4 linked regions of the Homo sapiens genome follow. The protein of the gene in region 1 interacts with the protein of each later gene in a pairwise test. Each region holds a gene or a part of one and is shown in the gene's direction. Other genes may lie near its edges. The genes, in order: NMI, SINHCAF, SH3GLB2 and NECAP2.

The links.
Region 2: the proteins of NMI (region 1) and SINHCAF interact in a two-hybrid assay, tested with the Homo sapiens proteins (one large-scale study listed by BioGRID and IntAct).
Region 3: the proteins of NMI (region 1) and SH3GLB2 interact in a two-hybrid assay, tested with the Homo sapiens proteins (one large-scale study listed by BioGRID).
Region 4: the proteins of NMI (region 1) and NECAP2 interact in a two-hybrid assay, tested with the Homo sapiens proteins (one large-scale study listed by BioGRID and IntAct).

The regions. Positions count from the first base shown.
Region 1 is NC_000002.12:151,268,905-151,273,222, reverse strand, and holds the end of NMI (N-myc-interactor), read left to right. Parts: intron 1-1,490; coding exon 1,491-1,597; intron 1,598-2,347; coding exon 2,348-2,530; 3' UTR 2,531-2,753; downstream 2,754-4,318. UniProt on the Homo sapiens protein: Acts as a signaling pathway regulator involved in innate immune system response.
Region 2 is NC_000012.12:31,298,090-31,303,208, reverse strand, and holds part of SINHCAF (SIN3-HDAC complex-associated factor), read left to right. Parts: intron 1-4,984; 5' UTR 4,985-5,004; coding exon 5,005-5,119. UniProt on the Homo sapiens protein: Subunit of the Sin3 deacetylase complex (Sin3/HDAC), this subunit is important for the repression of genes encoding components of the TGF-beta signaling pathway.
Region 3 is NC_000009.12:129,017,874-129,022,992, reverse strand, and holds part of SH3GLB2 (endophilin-B2), read left to right. Parts: intron 1-569; coding exon 570-711; intron 712-1,773; coding exon 1,774-1,902; intron 1,903-5,119.
Region 4 is NC_000001.11:16,449,843-16,454,961, forward strand, and holds part of NECAP2 (adaptin ear-binding coat-associated protein 2), read left to right. Parts: intron 1-282; coding exon of another isoform or gene 283-378; exon of another isoform or gene 379-399; intron 400-1,995; coding exon 1,996-2,173; intron 2,174-5,119. UniProt on the Homo sapiens protein: Involved in endocytosis.

The DNA.
Region 1 (4,318 bases):
TTTAAGAAGTCAAGCAACATATCCAAGGCCACATAGCTCATAAGTAGCAGAGCTAGGACTGAAGCTGGTCTATTTGACTCAGGACCTGTACTCTTTTTTTTTTTTTTAACTGTGATAAAATATATATAACATAAAATTTACCATTTTAACAATTTTTAAATGTACAATTCAAGGGTACTAAGTACATTCACAATGTTGTACAACCATCACCACTATCCATCTCTAGAACTTTTTAATCACCCCAAACTGAAACTCTGTACCCATTTAACAATAATTCTCCATTACCTCTTCTTCCAGCCCCTGGTAACCATCATTCTACTTTCTGTCTCTATGAATTTGCCTATTCTAGGTACCTCATTCAAGTGGAATTATACAATATTTGTCCTTTTCCTGTCTGTCTTATTTTGGTTAGCATAATGTTATCAGGGTCCATCCATGTTGTGGTATGTATCAGAATTTCATCCTTTTTAAAGGCTGAATAATATTCTCTGTGTGTGTGTGTATTTTATATATCCATTTTGTTGATCTGTTCATCTGTTGGTGGATGCTTGGGTTGCTTCCACCTTTTGCCTATTGTGAAAAATACTGCTCTGAGCATTAACGAGCAAGTATCTGTCCGAGTCCCTGCTTTCAGTTGTTTCGGGTATATACCCAGAAGTTGAATTGCTGGATCATATCATGTTCTATTTTAATATTTTGGGGAACTGTCATACTGTTTTCTACAGTGGCTGTACCATTTTACATTTCTATCAGCATTGCCTCAGGGTTTCAATTTCTCCATATTCTCGCCAATGAGGGCCTACACTCTTAATCATTGTACCATATTGCTGATCCAAGGTAGATGAGTGAGAAGAGTCATAAAAAACATGGTTGTATATTCCCAAGAACTGTTTTTGTTAAATGTTACAGTCTTGACACACATCCTTTCACCACTCTAGGAGAAAAAAATACTGCTAAAAAATAGACTATTCTTTGTGTTGTAGAAAACTGATGAATTTTTATTTCCTTTCAGTTTTTCTAGATGACATTCAATCCCCTCCCTGCTTTGGTTAACATCATTACTTCAGTTTATTGAATATATTGAAAAAAATGTATATAGTATTCTAATCATAGTTTTCACTTACAGCTTTTGAGAAACTGGGAAACAGTCCAGTCTTGTTAGATGAGTGGGTTACTTTCTGCAAAAGACTATGGTATTTTTTATAGCTCAAAGTAGATCTGTCTGAGGACATTGCAACCCTTTGTGCATTGATTGACTGCAGTGAATAATTCAAGATGGAATGAAGGCTTTAAACCTCATTATTGTTTGGTCTTGTAGTTTTCAAAATTATGTACTGTGAAGTCTTCAAAGTGGGCTTTAGAATTTCTTAAAAATTAATCTTTTAACTCAATATTTACTGTAATAGTGTTCTCTTTGAAGGAAGTTTTAACTTTGGTTAAAAATGCTTATGATATAAAAAAGACAAGTATTGTTTTTGTTTTGCTTTTAGTGGCTGACAAGATTTTGAAAAAGAAAGAATACCCTCTTTATATAAATCAAACCTGCCATAGAGTTACTGTTTCTCCATACACAGAAATACACTTGAAAAAGTATCAGGTAAAGTCATCTCTGTTCTCTCATTTTCAGAACTCACTGCCCAAACCCACCCCACAAAAAATAAAGTTGTTGTGAGTCTGTTACTTATGCATCTTATCAATGAGGGATAGCAAAATGGTTTCTTTACTTCATTTTTGCTTGGTGCAAAATGAGTTTGTCTTTTGAAGGAGCATTTTAATGCAAAACTGTACTTTATTATACAATTTTTAAAACTGAAATTACTCAGATAATGGCACAATTTTTATTTTTGTACATGGAGACATAGTTGCATTTCTCTCATATGTCTACTGTCAGTGAGCATGAGAAAGAATTCCTGCCTACTTTCTCTGAACTCATTATCTTTACCCCAGACCTGCTCCCTTTTCCTCTTCCTTCTCAGGTATCCAATGGTACCACCATCTACCTACTCCACCAACTTAAAAGCTAGAACTCATACTTAACTCTTCAGTTTGCTTCACCTCCAACATTCATTTGGTCACTAAATCTTGCCAGCTCCACTTCTGACTACCTCTTTACCTGGTCTTTCTGTTCCCAGAGCATCCCTCCTTTCCTCTGTGTTCCATAATGCCACCAGAGTTCTCTTTCTAAAACTCAGATCTGACTTGGATATTCTCTTGCTTGGAAAATCTTCCTAAGATTTCTTGTCTCTTCTAAGATAAAATAAAAAATATTAAGCAGAGATTATGAATGTAAAGTTTTGTAATTCAAAGCTCTTAGAAATCTTTCTATTTATCATTTTTTCCTTCTTAGATATTTTCAGGAACATCTAAGAGGACAGTGCTTCTGACAGGAATGGAAGGCATTCAAATGGATGAAGAAATTGTGGAGGATTTAATTAACATTCACTTTCAACGGGCAAAGAATGGAGGTGGAGAAGTAGATGTGGTCAAGTGTTCTCTAGGTCAACCTCACATAGCATACTTTGAAGAATAGACTTAACAGAATCATGAAAACTATAGCTTTTTAACCCGGATTACTGTAAATGTTTGACAAAAATGAATATGCTTTTCCTTAAAAAATGAAAACTTTAATTTTTACCATCCATTTATGTTTAGATACAAAACTTATTTCCATGTTTCTGAATCTTCTTTGTTTCAAATGGTGCTGCATGTTTTCAACTACAATAAGTGCACTGTAATAAAAAGTTTTGTTTATAGATTATGTGTATTGGTGCCATGTCTGCTGAAATCAACCTTAAGTGATTCAGATGTCCCCTGCCAGTGCTGGCTCATCCTGTTATGGTCTTGTGGGCCAATTCAGTTGTGGCCCCATGCCCACCAATATGCAGACTTGACTCTTAACATTTTCCAAAACAAAGGCAGTTACATTCAGCAGTTGGTGATTCCTGTAAACTCAACTGAAGATTCGAAGGACTTCAAGAGCAACCATTTACCACTGTGCATAGCATTTCACTCCACAACTCTAAAGGTTCTCAGAGCTGAGTGTGATCTTTTTCTTGAATTTCTGTTCACCCAAGTGCCAAGTGTCCCTTGATTCCTTCCAAGCCATCCCCTCTCCAAATAGAGCTCGTAAAGGACTAGCTTTTTCTTTCTTTTGCACTTACAATGGAAACAATTGGTATAAGAGTTTGAAAACCTTGGCATGGAGAGAGAGGTAAATACAAAGTTAGTGACTCATCACTTATCATGCTCGATGCTGGGGAATGACTGGAGGTAAAAACACAGTACCTGCCCTCCAAGGGTTTAAGTTTAGTTGGAAAGAGACCCAGTTTACTAGCATCTCACTGTTTTTAACTTGCAGAAACTTTAATGATAAAATTAAAGATTCCTATTCAGAGAAGGTAAAAGTCTTTTTGGTAAAGAACCTTTAGGCCGGTTGCGGTGGCTCACGCCACCAGCACTTTGGGAGGCTGAGGTGGGCGGATCACTTGAGGTCAGGAGTTCGAAACCAGCCTGGCCAACATGGTGAAACCCTATCTCTACTAAAAATACAAAAATTAGCCGGGCATGGTGGTGGGCGCCTGTAATCCCAGCTACTTGGGAGGCTGAGGCAGAATTGCTTGAACCTGGGAGGCGGAGGTTGCAGTGAGCTGAGATCGTGCCATTGCACTCCAGCCTGGGTGTTGCAGTGAGACTCTGTCTCAAAAAAAAAAAAAAAAAAAGAAAAATAGAAAAAAAACCTTTGGACAACTTCTATTCTGACATGGTAGGTTTCATGAAGAACTGGCAGCAGAATTAAATTCATATTAAAATGCTGGCAGAATGAAAGGCTTTTAGAAAAGGTTCTAAACCTATTGAATGCTGCCTGGCATCTAAAACAAACAAAAGGAAAAGCTCGAGTTTTGCTTCTGATATTTTATTTTTAGTTTTTAAAGTTACATTACTCTCAGGAGTTCTCATTTTCACCTTTCTTTAAAGAATGAGAGATGGTGCCTAAAAACTACAGTTTATGATAAATCTTCATATTTACCATTTAAACAAATCTCTCGTGTCTATTATTCTTTTTAAAATAGAATGACTATTTAAAGCTCTCAAAAATATTAAGAAGAAAACTTTAAAGTAGCTTTTTAATTTCCATTTTGCCAGTCTCACTGGCACAGAAGGTATTGTTGATAGTCTGTGGCAGATTGCCTATCAGGAAGAATTTTATGTTAATATTTATTTAGGACAAAGTTGAAATAGTCACTTTTGTATTTTGGGGGGTCCTCTTCAGGCAGTAAAATTGATAATTCAATTCTAAATTTTCCTATGTGTTTTTTTA
Region 2 (5,119 bases), on another chromosome or scaffold:
GACACAGCCTCTTCTAAATATTTGTTCTGGCTGAAGAATGTGTACGTGCAAAGGCAGCTATGTCAGTTAGATCAGTGTTAGAACCTCCCATAAATAGGCATGTTTTAACTGTAACCCCTCAAATCTTGAAAAACATCTTGAAATGATTTTTTTTTTCTATTTCAGGGACCTTAAGAAAACATATTGTAGATAGACAGATAGATGATTGATGATAGTGTCAGAAGAAAAGAGAAAAGTGAGCCAAGATGGCTGCAGTTTGGACATATGGGTAATAAAACCATGGCCTATTAACTAAGGCTGACCCTTTGTGCATTTGTAACTGGAGTTTGTTAAATATTTTACTAACAGGTACTGGTTGTAAACTTGTGTATCAGATATAGAACAAAGGCAGGATGGAATCAATCATCCTTCCGCCAGACCCTGAGATGCCTACACAATTATTAATCCTTCTCTCCTACCCGCTCAGCCACATACTTACTTTACCTTATGTGTAACATCACTGAATACCAGTCAAATCGACAAGAGTGTAATTGTTGCTTCACTGTACTGCAGGTATCCCCCTGTTTAAAAAAATGTATGAATACCGTGCCTCGTGTAATCTGCTTTGAAACACAGGTTATAACCTGTTGGAACCTGTGCTTCCTGGGCGCACATCCTCAAGCTCGGCCTGATAAACTTTGTTTGATTGAGATTCCCATCTTGGTCTCTCAATTTGGGTTGACACAGCTAGTATGAGACTGGCATCCGAGATGATGAGTTTACAAAGATGATAAAGACAAGTGAATTCCTAACTCAGTTATTTTTATTTTTAAATATCTCAAAAACAGGCTTACTGAGATCTTTCACGTACCATAAAATTCACTCATTTATATACCATAAGATTCACTCTTGTAATGTGTACAATTCAGTGGCTTTTAGTATACTCAGAATTTTGCAACCATACCACTATTTAATTTTAGAAGACGAATGACAGTTCATAATCAGTATTTTAAGTTTTTCTTGATTTTTGGCTTTATCTCACAGCTTAATTTTCCTCTTCTTTCCCCAAACACATGGTTAAGGATGAGATTGTATGGGGTCTGTTCTCAGCTGTAACTATTAATCAATTAGAAAGCAGATAGTATTACCTTTCTTCCTTTAAAACATAGTGCTGAGTGATATGATGCCTATGAGAATAGAGGCAAAATTCACAGATAGTTTCATAGCTGATGGTGTCATTTGAACAAATAAGATAGATTGTACTGGAGGAATCATTTAATATTGCACAAATTTGGTACTAGGAAAGCAGTATTCTAAAGAACCACCAGATTGCTTGAAAAAACAAATCTCCAGTTTAAAATCAAGTTATGCCACGCCCACCCAGTACTTTGTTAAATATATAAAGTAACTTGGTTTCAGAGACCATTTTATGTCCTTGGTTTTGCTCTAGGGATTAAGTAGTGTTTTTTTTTTGTTGTTTTTTTAAACATTTCATGGGTTTGTAGATTTTTGGAAATAATTTCAGTTAATCTCAGGGCTTCCCAAACCTTGAAATGGTTAAACACCAACCACTGCTTAACTTGGTTGTTGTAAACAAAGCCCGAAATGAAACCCCTGTGTATTTGCTGCAGATTCCCAGGTGCCTCTTAAGTGTGAGGATAAGCTCAGAAAAGGCTTAATAGGTTTATTAAGTTGTCATCCATTAAAAGGTTCACATGCTCCTTGTGTGTTGCATAAGGACAGGTGTCTGCCACCTCATTGCATTTCTCACTGAGCATTGCCTAGGAGAGGGTAAGCCCTAGGATTTAGATCCCTCTCAGATGTTCAGGCAGAATAATTTTGTCAGGACAAAAGTAAGGTCACGGAACTATATGAAAATGGATTATGAATCCTAAGACATCAGCCTATTCTCCCCTATGTCTAAGAAGAATATTCCTCAGCTTATGACTGGAATGTCTTGCTAGGGGTGCTGGGTAAGTTTTGTGGAGGTCCCCACCAGCAGAAAAAAATCATTGAAGAGGAACACTTAATTCACAATGGCTGCTGATTAAAAAGAAAGCCTCAATATTCACCTATAACCCTAACATCCTTAACAGCTTAGCAGTGTGGTAACTGGCACAAACTATGGCGTCTTGGTCAAATCCAACCTCAGTGAAGGTAGTTCACATCCTAGAGATGAGCTGAATGCTGATAGCTTTGAGGACTTGTTTATTTGGGGGAAGGGAAAGAGATGGTGAGGGTAGAGATAGGAATCTGTCTGTCGTAATAGGATTTGGTCTGTGTATTAATGGAATGAACTGGCCTTTTTTGCTCTGCTTCTTTTGTCCTTGCTGAGAAGGGAGGCTGAAGTTTCCAAGAGTTATGGATGAAGTTGGAGAGTATTAGAGGAACTGTTCTCTGACCTTCTTGATGGTAATGCAAGCTGTTGGGCGAGTTTGGAGAAGAGCGCAGGGTGGTGTGAGGACGAGGGCCGTATTAACATTTTGCCTTAAAACAGGAATACACAAATTAAAGCAATAACTGCTACTCTGCTTTCTTGTTTCTGCAATCTTCTGTCATTTGACATTGTTTTTTCCAAAGCAACATGCGACCATTTTCTTCAGGATTTTCTTTTCAGTTATCATATGGGTTTGTTGTTGGATTGAGAAAAAAAAATCTGCCTCATTTGAGCAGGCCTCTCTAGATCTTTTCTTATGACTGTGTAGAGGGTACTTCCTCATTTTTCTTCCTCTCAAAGACATCAAATTCCCAAGCATTTAACTAAAATTATTATCAACTAAAAATGTTTTTTTTAAAACAGTTCTTAGAGGTAACTGTTTAGACTTAATTATTGAAATGCATGAAGGCCTTCTGCCTTGCCCCCATCCCACTCTTTTGCCTGCCTCTCTCACCAACAAAAACATGGCAGAGGAACAGTTTATTAACAATAGCCTGTTTGAAAGGGAAGCTTCAGTTTTTAGCTAATTATTTGCTAATAAAAGTTTTAAAAAAATTTTCTTTTAAAAGTTGTAAAACCTCTGTCTATATTTCAAAACCCCTCAATACCAAAAAAATACACATAAAAAGCCTGGATATTTGGTTCTGAATCATTTTCATTAATACTTGCTATATTATACTAACCAGAATTGGAATGGAATGGGATCAGACGAGATAATCCAAAGACAAATACAGCCATATGTCACACAAGGACGTTTCGGTCAACCACAGACTGCATATATGATGGTGGTCCCAAAAGATTATGATACCATATTTTTTTGTACCTTTTCTATATTTAGATGCACAGATTCTTACCATTGTATTACAGTTGCCCACGGCATTCAGTACCGTCACACGCTGTATAAGTTTGTTGCCTTGGAACAGTAGGCTATCCCATATAGCCTAGGGGTGTTGTAGGCTATTGCCATCTTGGTTTATGTGAGGACACTGATGTCTGCACAAGGATGCCCAATGATGCATTTCTCAGAATGTGTCCCCATTGTTAAGCAACACATGACTGTACTGAAGCTTTAGGTTTACTCATCTAAGTTTATTTCTAAAACAACTTTAAAAAGATAGTGTTCTGTGGTAATAACTCCTAAAACTATGGACACGAAAGTGATATTAATAATTTTCTTGGCCGGGCACGGTGGCTCACGCCTGTAATCCCAGCACTTTGGGAGGCCGAGACGGGTGGATCACAAGGTCAGGAGATCGAGACCATCCTGGCTAACATGCTGAAACCCTGTCTCTACTAAAAATACAAAAAGTTAGCCGGGTGTGGTGGCGGGCACCTGTAGTCCCAGCTACTAGGGAGGCTGAGGCAGGAGAATCACTTGAACCTGGGAGGCAGAGCTTGCAGTGAGCCTAGATCGCGCCACCGCACTCCAGCCTGGGTGAAAGAGTGAGACTCTGTCTCCAAAAAAAAAAAAATTTTTTTCTTTTATTGTTGCTTTATGTGATAATTTTGTGATAATTTATAGTTAGACCCTCATACATACACACATCCTCTGACTTGTCCATTGGAGTTTAGTTTCTATATTCATTGCCTTTTCATCACCTCTCTTAGTCCGGTTGTTTTGGTGAGCTGGCCCTTGATTTGGATATTCCAAATTACTTTTCCTAAGGTACAGATTTACTGCCAGCTACATATTTGCATCCAGCCCCAGAGCTGTTTTCATTCCTTCCTTGACGTTGAGATTTTTTTTTTTTTTAACAGGAGGACTGCAATTTATTTCACTCTACGTCTCTGGGACATTTGCCTCCCACTGTTACTACTCTCAGGCACAAAGCCTTGTAGAAGAGGTCCACAAACCTCTAACAACTAAGGGGCAGATCAGCGGTCAGACAACATGAGCTCGTTCTTTTTTTGTCTTAATGATAATAAGGAATTATTATTATTAAATTCTAACCTTGGATTTTTGTGAATTTTACATCTTCCCTTCAGCAGTTTCAATTCAGGGGCAAACTTGACTGCTTAGAACTTCCCATTTATCACAGAAGAAATCCCCTCTGAATTCCCATTAGGCAAAGTAGTATGGGCTGATGCATAGTGAGCTAGTTGTGTGCTTAGTATCAAATAGTATTCATGGTAAATGCTCAAAACTTCCCCAGAGGGGAATCACGTTAATGCAAATGTGCAAAATAAAAAGGTGTGTCTTAAATTTAAGGATGCATCCTTAATTGTGTACAGCTTCATTATTTTACAGGATTGTTTGTGGCATTTCTTACTTCAAAACCTGATTTTAAAAAATGCTTCTCTTCCCCATTTTTAGATTGCATGTTTGTTAGGCGAGTTAGGAGGTAGTAGAGTCCTCCTTAAATAACTAGGCTTTTCTTTGTGTTTTATACGCTTGCCTTGATAGTGCCAAGAATGGAGGTCGATCCAGGAGGTCTTCCCTTGAGCTGCCTGCCTGTCTTGGTCATATAACACCAAGTTGCTTGGGGGTGGGGTGGAGCAGAGAGAACTCTTTAATGGTTCCTTGTTACAGCCCTCAACAAAGATATGTCAATTCCCTTGGCTTTACAGACTATTGCCCAGAAGAAAAGATGTTTGGTTTTCACAAGCCAAAGATGTACCGAAGTATAGAGGGCTGCTGTATTTGCAGAGCTAAGTCCTCCAGTTCTCGATTCACTGACAGTAAACGCTATGAAAAGGACTTCC
Region 3 (5,119 bases), on another chromosome or scaffold:
GAGGCAGAGCCCCTTGCCCAAAGTCACACATCTTGACAGTGGCAGAACTAAGACTTGAATCAGGTCCTTCTGAACCCCGACCCTGGGTTCTTCCTCTCCCTCCTCTGGCACCCTCTCCCTAGCAGCTCCCAGCTGCCCATGGAGCCCCCTGATAACCCCAGACCCTACTCCCTGCCCTGTTTGTCCCGAGTACTTTCTACCAAGTCCTCTCCTTCAGAGTCAGACTCAAAGGACCCTAGGGCTGGCCTCCCCAGGGTTCCTCACCGCACTAAGCTGTGTGCCAGATTGTATATGAAGGTGCATTTTTGTGGGGAGAGAGTGTAGCTTTCATTGGATTTCCAAAAGAAGCTGTGATTCCCACACTCTGGCCCAGCCACCTCATTTCACAAAGGGGAAAACAGTGAGGCCCTGCCAGGTCACACAGTATCACACTCAGGGCTGGTTCCTTGACCCTGGGGCCTGCCTGGGTTCCTGCTGGTGGGGAGGGGCAGTCCTCCCTTTCCCCACCACTCCCCCACCTCCTTCTGAGCTCTCCCCCTCCCCACCCCTTGGCCTTCCCCTCTGCGTAGTTCACGGAGGAGAAATTTGGCCAGGCTGAGAAGACTGAGCTTGATGCCCACTTTGAAAACCTTCTGGCCCGGGCAGACAGCACCAAGAACTGGACAGAGAAGATCTTGAGGCAGACAGAGGTGCTGCTGCAGCCCAACCCCAGTGAGTGCGTGTTCGTGGGCCCGGGGAGGGATGTAGTCGTGGGGCAGGGATACAGTAGGAGGCCTGGCCCTGTTGTGGCATAGGTGGGGCGGGGCTGCAGCCGGGGTTTCAGCTAGACTCTTGGGCTCAAGGCTGTTGAAGAGGGACAGTTAAAAGAAAATGGGGGACTCTGTGTTGGGCTGCCAGACACTCCAGGGCAGTGGAAACACTGAGTTTTGCACAGAAGAGTTAAAATGCCTGGAAGCTAAAACACACGTGGGAGAAGAGGCAGGCAAAACACACACCTGGTTGGTCACTCTGTTGGTTTTTTTTTTTTTTTTTTTGAGGTGGAGTCTTGCTCTGTCACCCATTCTGGAGTGCAATGGTGCAATCTTGGCTCACTGCAACCCTTGCCTCCTGGGTTCAAGCGATTCTCCTGCCTCAGCCTCCTGAATAGCTGGGACTACAGGCACATGCCACCACGCCCAGCTAATTTTTGTATTTTTAGTAGAGAAGGGGTTTCACCATGTTGGCCAGGCTGGTCTTGAACTCCTGACCTCAAATGATCCACCCGCCTTGGCCTCCCAAAGTGCTGGGATTATAGGCAGGAGCCACCGTGTCCGTCCCAACCTGGTCACTTTCAAGAGGTCAGCAAGGCCCAGAGATGAAGGGACTGCCCGGAGCACACCCAGGCAGGCCCCCAAGGTCAAGCAGAAGCGACCTGCAGGACTTCCGGGGAAAGGAGGGTGGCTCCGGGTCGTGCTGTGTGTCTGCCTGTAAATCTGCTCTGTGGCTCATTGAGGGGCCAGATAACTTTTGGGTGCCAGGAGCAGAGAATTGTGCAAGCATGTATTATGGTCTGTAATCATATTAATAAGGGAGAAGTGGACGGGCCCTGGCTTCCTCCTCTGTATAGTGCTGGGTCAATCACAACAGTCTCAGGGTTGGGCATGAGCAAGAGCGTATTCTGGAAGTCAGCAGGCCAGGTGCACCTGTGGGCAGGGCCGGGTCTGGGTCTGTTTCTGTTTCATTTTTGGGCTTGAACTAAGGAGCCCTGTGGCTTTGGCTGCTGTCTCCCCACAGGTGCCCGAGTGGAGGAGTTCCTGTATGAGAAGCTGGACAGGAAGGTCCCCTCAAGGGTCACCAACGGGGAGCTGCTGGCTCAGTACATGGCAGACGCGGCCAGTGAGCTGGGGCCGACCACCCCCTATGGTGAGCAGGCCTCACAGCCAGGGACTAGGGGTCATGGTCTTTAGCTCTGATTCTCCCTCCCTCCCTTCCTTTTTTTTACTTAAAAAAATAATTATACAAATAATACCTGAATTCATTCTAAATGTAAAAACTCTACGCAGAAAAAAAGAGTAAAAAATGGAATCTTCTCTTAACCAGTTTTGGTTTGTGTGTGTGTGTGTGTTTTGTTTTTGTTTTTTTTTGAGATGGAGTCTCGCTCTGTCGCCCAGGCTAGAGTGCAGTGGCGTGATCTCGGCTCACTGCAAGCTCCACCTCCTGGGTTCCCGCCGTTCTCCTGCCTCAGCCTCCCAAGTAGCTGGGACTACAGGCGCCCGTGACCACGCCTGGCTAATTTTTTTTGTATTTTTTAGTAGAGACGAGGTTTCACCATGTTAGCCAGGATGGTCTCGATCTCCTGACCTCGTGATCTGCCCGCCTATGCCTCGAAAACTGCTGGGATTACAGGCGTGAGCCACCGCGCCCGGCCTATTTTTTTTTTTTTGAGACACAGTTTCACTCCATCACCCAGGCTGGAGTGCGGTGGTGCGATCTCAGCTCACTGCAACGCCCCTGCCTCCCAGGTTCAAGTGATTCTCCTGCCTCAGCCTCCCGAGTAGCTGGGACTACAGGAGCCCGCCACCACACCCAGCTAATTTTTGTGTTTTTAGTAGAGGCAGGGTTTCACCATGTTGACCAGGCTGTTCTCAAACTCCTGACCTCAAGTGATCCGCCTGCCTCAGCCTCCCAAAGTGCTGGGATTACAGGTGTGAGCCACCGCACCTGGCCTATTTGTGTGTATTTTTTAATGGAATCATATTGTGTGCTATCTGGGAACCTGACTTTTTTTTTTTTTTTTTTTTTTTTTTGGAGATGGAGTTTTGCTCTGTTGTCCGGGCTGGAGTGCAGTGGCGCAATCTCAGCTCACTGCAACCTCCGCCTCCTGGGTTCAAGCAATTCTCCTGCCTCAGCCTCCCAAGTAGCTGGGATTCCATGTGCCCACCAGCACACCTGGCTAACTTTTTTGTATTTTTAGTAGAGACGGTGTTTTACCATGTTGGCCAGGCTGGTTTCCAACTCCTGACCTCAAGTGATCTGCCCGCCATGGCCTCCCAAAGTGCTGGGATTACGGGCATGAGCCACCGCACCCGGCTGGAACCTGACTTTTTAACTTGACATCATATTACAGGTATCTTTTCACTGAAGCATTTATAGAACCATATCCATCTTTTTTTTTTCATTTTAAAATTTTATCCAAGTATAAGCTATATATTATGTGTTTAAGTGTATAATTCAATGATTTTTAGTAAATTTACAGAGTTGTACAAACATCTCCACAATCTAACTTTTTTTTTTTTTTTTTTTTTGAGGCAGAGTCTCACTCTGTCACCCAGGCTGGAGTGCGGTGGCGCAATCTCAGCTCACTGCAACCTCTGCCTCCTGGGTTCAAGCATCCCGGGTCCTCCCTCAGCTACCCAAGGAGCTAGGATTGCACACGCCCACCACCACTCCCAGCTAATTTTTGTATTTTTAGCAGAGACCGGGTTTCACCATGTTATCCAGGCAGGTCTCGATCTCCTGACCTCCGGTGATCCACCCGCCTCAGCCTCCCAAAGTGCTGGGATAACAGGCGTGAGCAACTGCGCCCAGCCAAACTTATTTATTTTTTATTTTCTGTTACCTTTTTTGAGACAGGGTCTGGCTCTGTCCCCCAGGCTGGATTGCAGTGGTGCAATCTCAGCTCACTGCAACCTCTGCCTTTTGGGCTGAAGGCATCCTTCCACCTCAGCCTCCTGATTAGCTGGGATTACAGGTGTCCACCACCATGCCCTTCTAATTTTTATATTTTTCTGTAGAGATGGGGATCTCGCTATGTTGCCCAGGCTGATCTCAAACTCCTAAGCTGAAGTGACCTCCCACCTTGGCCTCCCAAAGTGCTGGGATTACAGGAGTGTGCCACCGTGCCCGGCCCACAGTCTAATTTAAAGAACATTTCCATCACACCCCAAAAGTCCTTCATGTCTATTGTCAAGCCCCATTTTCACCTCCAGCCAGCCAACCACTAACGTGTTTTCGGTCCCTATAAGTTCATTTTTTCTGAACATTTTATATAAATGGAATCATATGACATGTTGTTTCTTGCATTTAGCTGCTTTTACCTAACATAATTTTTTTTTTTTTTTTGAGATGGAGTCTCACTCTGTCACCCAGGCTGGAGTGCAGTGGCACAATCTCGACTCACTGCAAGCTCCTCCTCCCGGGTTCATGCCATTCTCCTGCCTCAGCCTCCCGAGTAGCTGGACTACAGGCGCCTGCCACCACGCTCGGCTAATTTTTTGTATTTTTAGTAGAGATGAGGTTTCACCATCTTGGCCAGGCTGGTCTTGAACTCCTGACCTCGTGATCCACCCGCCTCGGCCTCCCAAAGTGCTGGGATTACAGGCATAGCCACTGTGCCTGGCCTCAGGTAAATTTAACTTAACTCTTTTTTTTTTTTTTGAGACGGAGTCTCTCTCTGTCACCTAGGCTGGAGTGCAGTGGCGCAATCTTGGCTCACTGCAACCTCCGCCTCCTGGGTTCAAGCAATTCTCTTGCCTCAGCCTTCCAAGTCGCTGGGATTACAGGCACCCGCCACCATGCCCAGCTAATTTTTTGTGTTTTTAGTAGAGACGGGGTCTCACCATGTTGGCCAGGCTGGTCTTGAACTCCTGACCTTGTGATCCGCCCGCCTTGGCCTCCCAAAGTGCTGGGATTACAGGCGTGAGCCACTGCGCCCAGCCAATTTAATTTAACTTTTTAAGAAGTTGCCAAACTGTTTTCCAAAGTAGCTGTATGATTTTTTTATTCCTGTCAGTAGTGTGTTGTTTCATTTTCAGATATTTGTGGATTTTCTGGGTTTTCTTCTATTGTTGCTTTTAACTTAATTCCACTGCGATCAGAGAATGTATGAACATGTCGTGCTATGTTAGTATTATTATTATTTTGAGATGGAGTCTCGCTCTGTCGCCCAGGCTGGAGTGCAATGGTGCCATCTGGGCTCACTGCAAGCTCCACTTCCCAGGTTCAAGGGATCCTCCACCTCAGCCTCTCAGCCTTCTGAGTAGCTGAGATTACAGGCACGCACCATCACGCACCTATAATCACACCCAGCTAATTTTTTTTTTTTTTTTTTTTGTTTGAGACGGAATCTCGCTCTGTCGCC
Region 4 (5,119 bases), on another chromosome or scaffold:
CTCCTGTTCATAGGAACAGGTTGGGCTGGGCTGGGCTGGGCTGGGTTGCCTAAAGTTGGCCTTTACCTGGCTGCAAGGGTGGAGAGGGGAGATGAGGTCAGAGTCATGATTGCGGGGACCCAAGGACCAAGTGGATTGGTTTTTGTTTTTGCTAGGAATACTGTGTTGAGATGGATTTGTTTTTTCAAGAAGCTTTGTAACTCTAAAATAATGCTTTTCCTCTTTACTTACTCTTTCTCCTCTTTTCTGCTTCGTGCTGGTGATGATTTGGGATCCTTGAAGTTGGCCAGCTGGCCCTTAAGAGAGAAATGCAAGTCCAATCCAGTGGACTGGTTGGGATGTGATTCTTTCTCTCGCTTGGAGGAAACTAACATTTAATGAGCATCAGCTGAGGGCCAGGTAGTGGTTTTTTTTTGTTTTGTTTTGTTTTTTGTTTTGTTTTGTTGTTTTTTTTTTTTAGGCATTTCTCATGTGAATTAAACATCCTCTCCCTTTCCTCCATGAGATGAGGAAATGGAGGCTTAGGGAGGGTTGGGGACTTGCCCAGGGTCACAGAGCTAGAAATAACTGGCACAGCTGTGCTCACACTGAGGTCTTTGAGGTCTTTTGACTTCAGGGCTGGACTTACGATTTTATTAAGCTGCTGCTTTCCTTACAAGTAGGGAACACATTATCTTCATCTGTGTAACTTGTGCTGCTTTCTGGCTCATGCTTGGTGCTCAGTTTTTTTTTTAAAGCATTTTCTTGAAGTATAATGTGCATGTAAAAAAGTGTACAAATCATAAATGCAGAACTCTGTGAAATTTAAAAAATCTAATCTATAGGCTGGGAGTGGTGGCTCACGCCTGTAATCCCAGCACTTTGGGAGGCTGAGGTGGGCGGATCACCTGAGGTCGGGAGTCCGAGACCAGCCTGACCAACATGGACAAACCCTGTCTCTACTAAAAATACAAAATTAGCCGGGCATGGTGGTCCATGGCTGTAATCCCAGCTACTCCGGGGGCTGAGGCAGGAGAATTGGCTTGAACCTGGGAGGTGGAGGTTGCAGTGAGCTGAGATCGAGCCATTCATTGCACTCCAGCCTGGACAACAAGAGCGAAACTCTGGCTCAAAAAACAAAACAAAACAAAACACCCAATTTATAAACTTGCACCTTGCTCAAGATGCAAAAGATTGTCAGCACTCTGGAAACACCTCTCCTGGCCCCTCCCAGTAACTGCCCTGAGTAACCCCATCCTGACTTCACATACCCTAGATTTTGTTTGTTCTTAACTTTCATGAATTGAATCATACACCTAATCTTGATTTGGAATGATTTCTTTCTTTTACTCAATGTAATTTTTGTGAGAGTCATCCATGGTGTTGCGTGTAGTTTGTTCATTCTCATTGTTGTGGCATGTACCATTGTGAGAATTCACCCGATTTATTTATGTTTTACTGATGATGGACATTTGGGTAGTTTCCAGTTTGGGGCGATTACAAATAATGCTGCTGTAGATGTTTGAGTTCATGTTTTTGGTGCATATATGTATGATTTCTGTTGGTTTATATCTAGGAGTGGAACTGCGGAGTCATAAGTTTAAGTTCCTATGTTGAGCTTTATAATCCTTTCAAATAATTTTTCAAAGTAGTTTTACCAGTTTACACTTAAGCCAGCAGCGCGTGAATGGTTACTTCATATCGTAGTCAATACTTGATAATCTACATTTTAGCCATTCTGGTGAGCGTGTAATGGTATATCATTATAGCTTTGATCTGCATTTCCCTGATGAATGAAGTGGGGGTGCTGGGTTTTAAAATGGACCTTATTTGTGAGAGATTCAGAATGATGATGCACTAAGTATAGCTCATAGCAATGGAGGTGCTAGGTAGGACCATCTTTTGGTTACACAGATGTTGGGGGTCTGGGGTCACCTTGGCCCTCCTTGTGGGGTTTTCTGGTAGCATTGGGACTCCAGCAGAACGGGCTGATTTGCATTCCTCTTCCCTCTTTAGAACATGAAGAAGAAGGAAGGAGCAGCTGGGAATCCCCGAGTCCGGCCTGCCAGCACAGGAGGGCTGAGCCTGCTTCCCCCTCCCCCAGGGGGGAAAACCTCCACCCTGATCCCTCCCCCTGGGGAGCAGTTGGCTGTGGGGGGATCCCTCGTCCAGCCAGCAGTTGCTCCCAGTTCAGGTTAGTGCTCAGTGGGTGACTGCTGCATCAGTACCTGCCGGCTCCTCTTCTCCCTGGCAGCCAGGCCCCATGGTTTCCCCCCCGTTACACACATGGATTGGTCATGTAGTACCTGTCCGTGTCAAAGAAGGCGGGCACCCAAAGCTCATTCTGCACACGCTGGGTAAGGGGCTCCTCCTACTTGGCCTTTAGGGCGTCTGCCCTCCCCTGAGAGGCCAGGGCTGCGACTTGTTAGTTACTGTGAAATCATCAACATGTCGGTTCCTGGTTCCCAGTGTCTGCTCAGTGGGTATTGAGTGAGTGGGTAATGGAGACACAGTCTCTGCTCACGTGTAGTGAGAGAGATGAGTCACAGCACAGAGACCAAATGTGTAGGGCCTAGACCCACCATCAGCTGCTGTGATCTGGAGAGGTTTCATGAAAGAGGTGACATTGATCTGGACCTTGAAGGAAGGAGATAGAGTGGGAGTGGTTGGCATTCCAGGCAGAGAGAAGAACACGAATGAGGCCCAGACTTTTAGACACCTGGTGTATTTAGGGAGATGGGTACAGCATAAGGTGTGCCAAGGTGAGTGGTGGGAAATGAGATTTCGTTTGGAGTGAGCACCTCGGGTGTGGGAATCTGAGAGCATTTGCCCTGGCAGTTTGTGCTGAGGAGCCCTTAGGAGACCCTGGGATTCCGGAAGCGAGTGTCTAGTGTCAGCTTCTGACCACGCTGGGGTGCCAGCCCTTTTCCTCTACCTCCCCGCGCGCCCCCCCCGCCCGCCGCCCCGCCCAGCCCAGCTTGATGCTCCTGGCCTTCCCCAGGCTGGGCGATTGTCACCAGCGTGCCTTCTGCACACAGCTCTCCCCAGCTTGCAGGCAGGAAGCCTTCCTGCTTTACTGATTCCTAAGCCTCCCCAACATTGGCTGCCCTATCTGGAGGTCAAGCTTCAGACTTCAGTCCTGTGGGGAGAGTGGCAGGAGGGGCAGTCAGAGAGCCCCGGCCCGGTACCAGGAACTGTTCTTTAAGTGCTATTTCTCAGAGTGGGGTCATAGGACCACTTGCTTTGGCATCGCTGGGGGATGGGGGCAAGAATCTGCATTCTTGTGTCTTTTTTTTTTTTTTGAAATGGAGTTTTTTTGCTCTTGTTGCCTAGGCTGCAGTGTAATGGTGTGATCTCGGCTCACTGCAACCTCTGCCTCCTGGGTTCAAGTGATTCTCCTGCCTCAGCCTCCTGAGTAGCTGGGATTACAGGCATGTGCCTCCACACCCAGCTAATTTTGTAATTTTAGTAGAGACAGGGTTTCTCCATGTTGGTCAGGCTGGTCTTGAACTCCCAACCTCAGGTGATCCGCCCGCCTCAGCCTCCCAAAGTGCTAGGACTACAGGCGTGAGCTACTGCACCCGGCCCTTATGTTTGTTCTTGTTTGTGTGTTGACTAAAGTCTGAGAGCTACTACCTTAGGCCTTCCTAAGCAACCAAGGTTGCTGATGGATATTTATTTATTTAAGATGGAGTCTTGCTCTGTCACCCAGGCTGGAGAGCAGTGGCATGTTCTCGGCTCACCGCAACCTCCACCTCCTGGGTTCAAGTGATTCTTCTGCTTCAGCCTCCTGAGTAGCTGAGATTACAGGCACGCACCACCACGCCCAGCTAAGTTTTGTATTTTTAGTAGAGACAGGGTTTCACTGTGTTGGCCAGGATGGTCTCGATCTCCTGACCTCGTGATCTGCCCGCCTCAGCCTCCCAAAGTGCTGGGATTACAGGCATGAGCCACCGTGCCTGGCCTTGCTGATGCATTTTTAACAGCATTTTAATTTTAATATGGTGCACTTGCTGTGTGCCAGGTAGAGTTCTAGGCACTGGTACGTATAGCATCCAGTTTCAGCTCTCAAGGGCTTGTTTTCTGGTGTCTGAGACAGGCAGTTAGCATGTCAACAAACAAAATGGTGTCAGATAATAAGTCATGAATATCAACATTTATGAAGCACTTACTATATGAACAATATGGTTGGGTTCAAATTTCAGCTTACTAGCTTTGTGATATTTATTTATTTATTTTTATTTTTTATTTTTGAGATGGAGTTTTTTGCTCTTGTTGCCCAGGCTGGAGTGTGATGGCGCAATCTCGGCTTACCACAACCTCTGCTTCCTGGGTTCAAGCGACTCTCCTGCCTCAGCCTCCCAAGTAGCTGGGATTACAGGCATGCGCCACCTCACGTGGCTAATTTTGTATTTTTAGTGGAGACGGGGTTTCTCCATGTTGGTCAGGCTGGTCTTGAACTCCTGACCTCAGGTGATCCTCCCGCCTTGACCTCCCAAAGTGCTGGGATTACAGGCATGAGCCACCGCACCTCGCCTACTTATTTATTTTTAAGAAGGAGTCTCACTCTGTTGCCCAGGCTGGAGTGCAGTGGCATGATCTCAGCTTACTGCAACCTCCGCTTCCTGGGTTCAAGCAATTCTCCTGCCTCAGCCTCCCAAGTAGCTGGCATTACAGGCATGCACCACCATACCTGGCTAATTTTTGTAATTTTAGTAGAGACAGAGGTTTCACCACGTTGGCCAGGCTGGTCTCGAACTCCTGACCTCAGGTGATCCACCTGCTTCAGCCACCCAAAGTGCTGGGATTACAGGCTGAGCCACTGTGCCCAGCCCAGTTTTGTGATCTTTAGAAAATCACTTCTCCATGCCTCATTTTTCTCATCTGTAGGATAGGGGAAGTAATGATACTTAAAATATAAGTTTCTTGTGAGGATCAAATAAGCTGATTTATGTATAGCACTTAGAACAATTTTTGGAACATTCTAAGTGCTCACTGAATGTTAGATCTCATTTTATTAATATCGTTATTGCCACTATATGCTGGACCTGTTCTAAGCATTCTGTGGATATTTAATCTTCACACCAGTCCTATGGAGTAGTTCCTGTTATTTTCAGCATTTTAGAGGTAAGAGAATGGA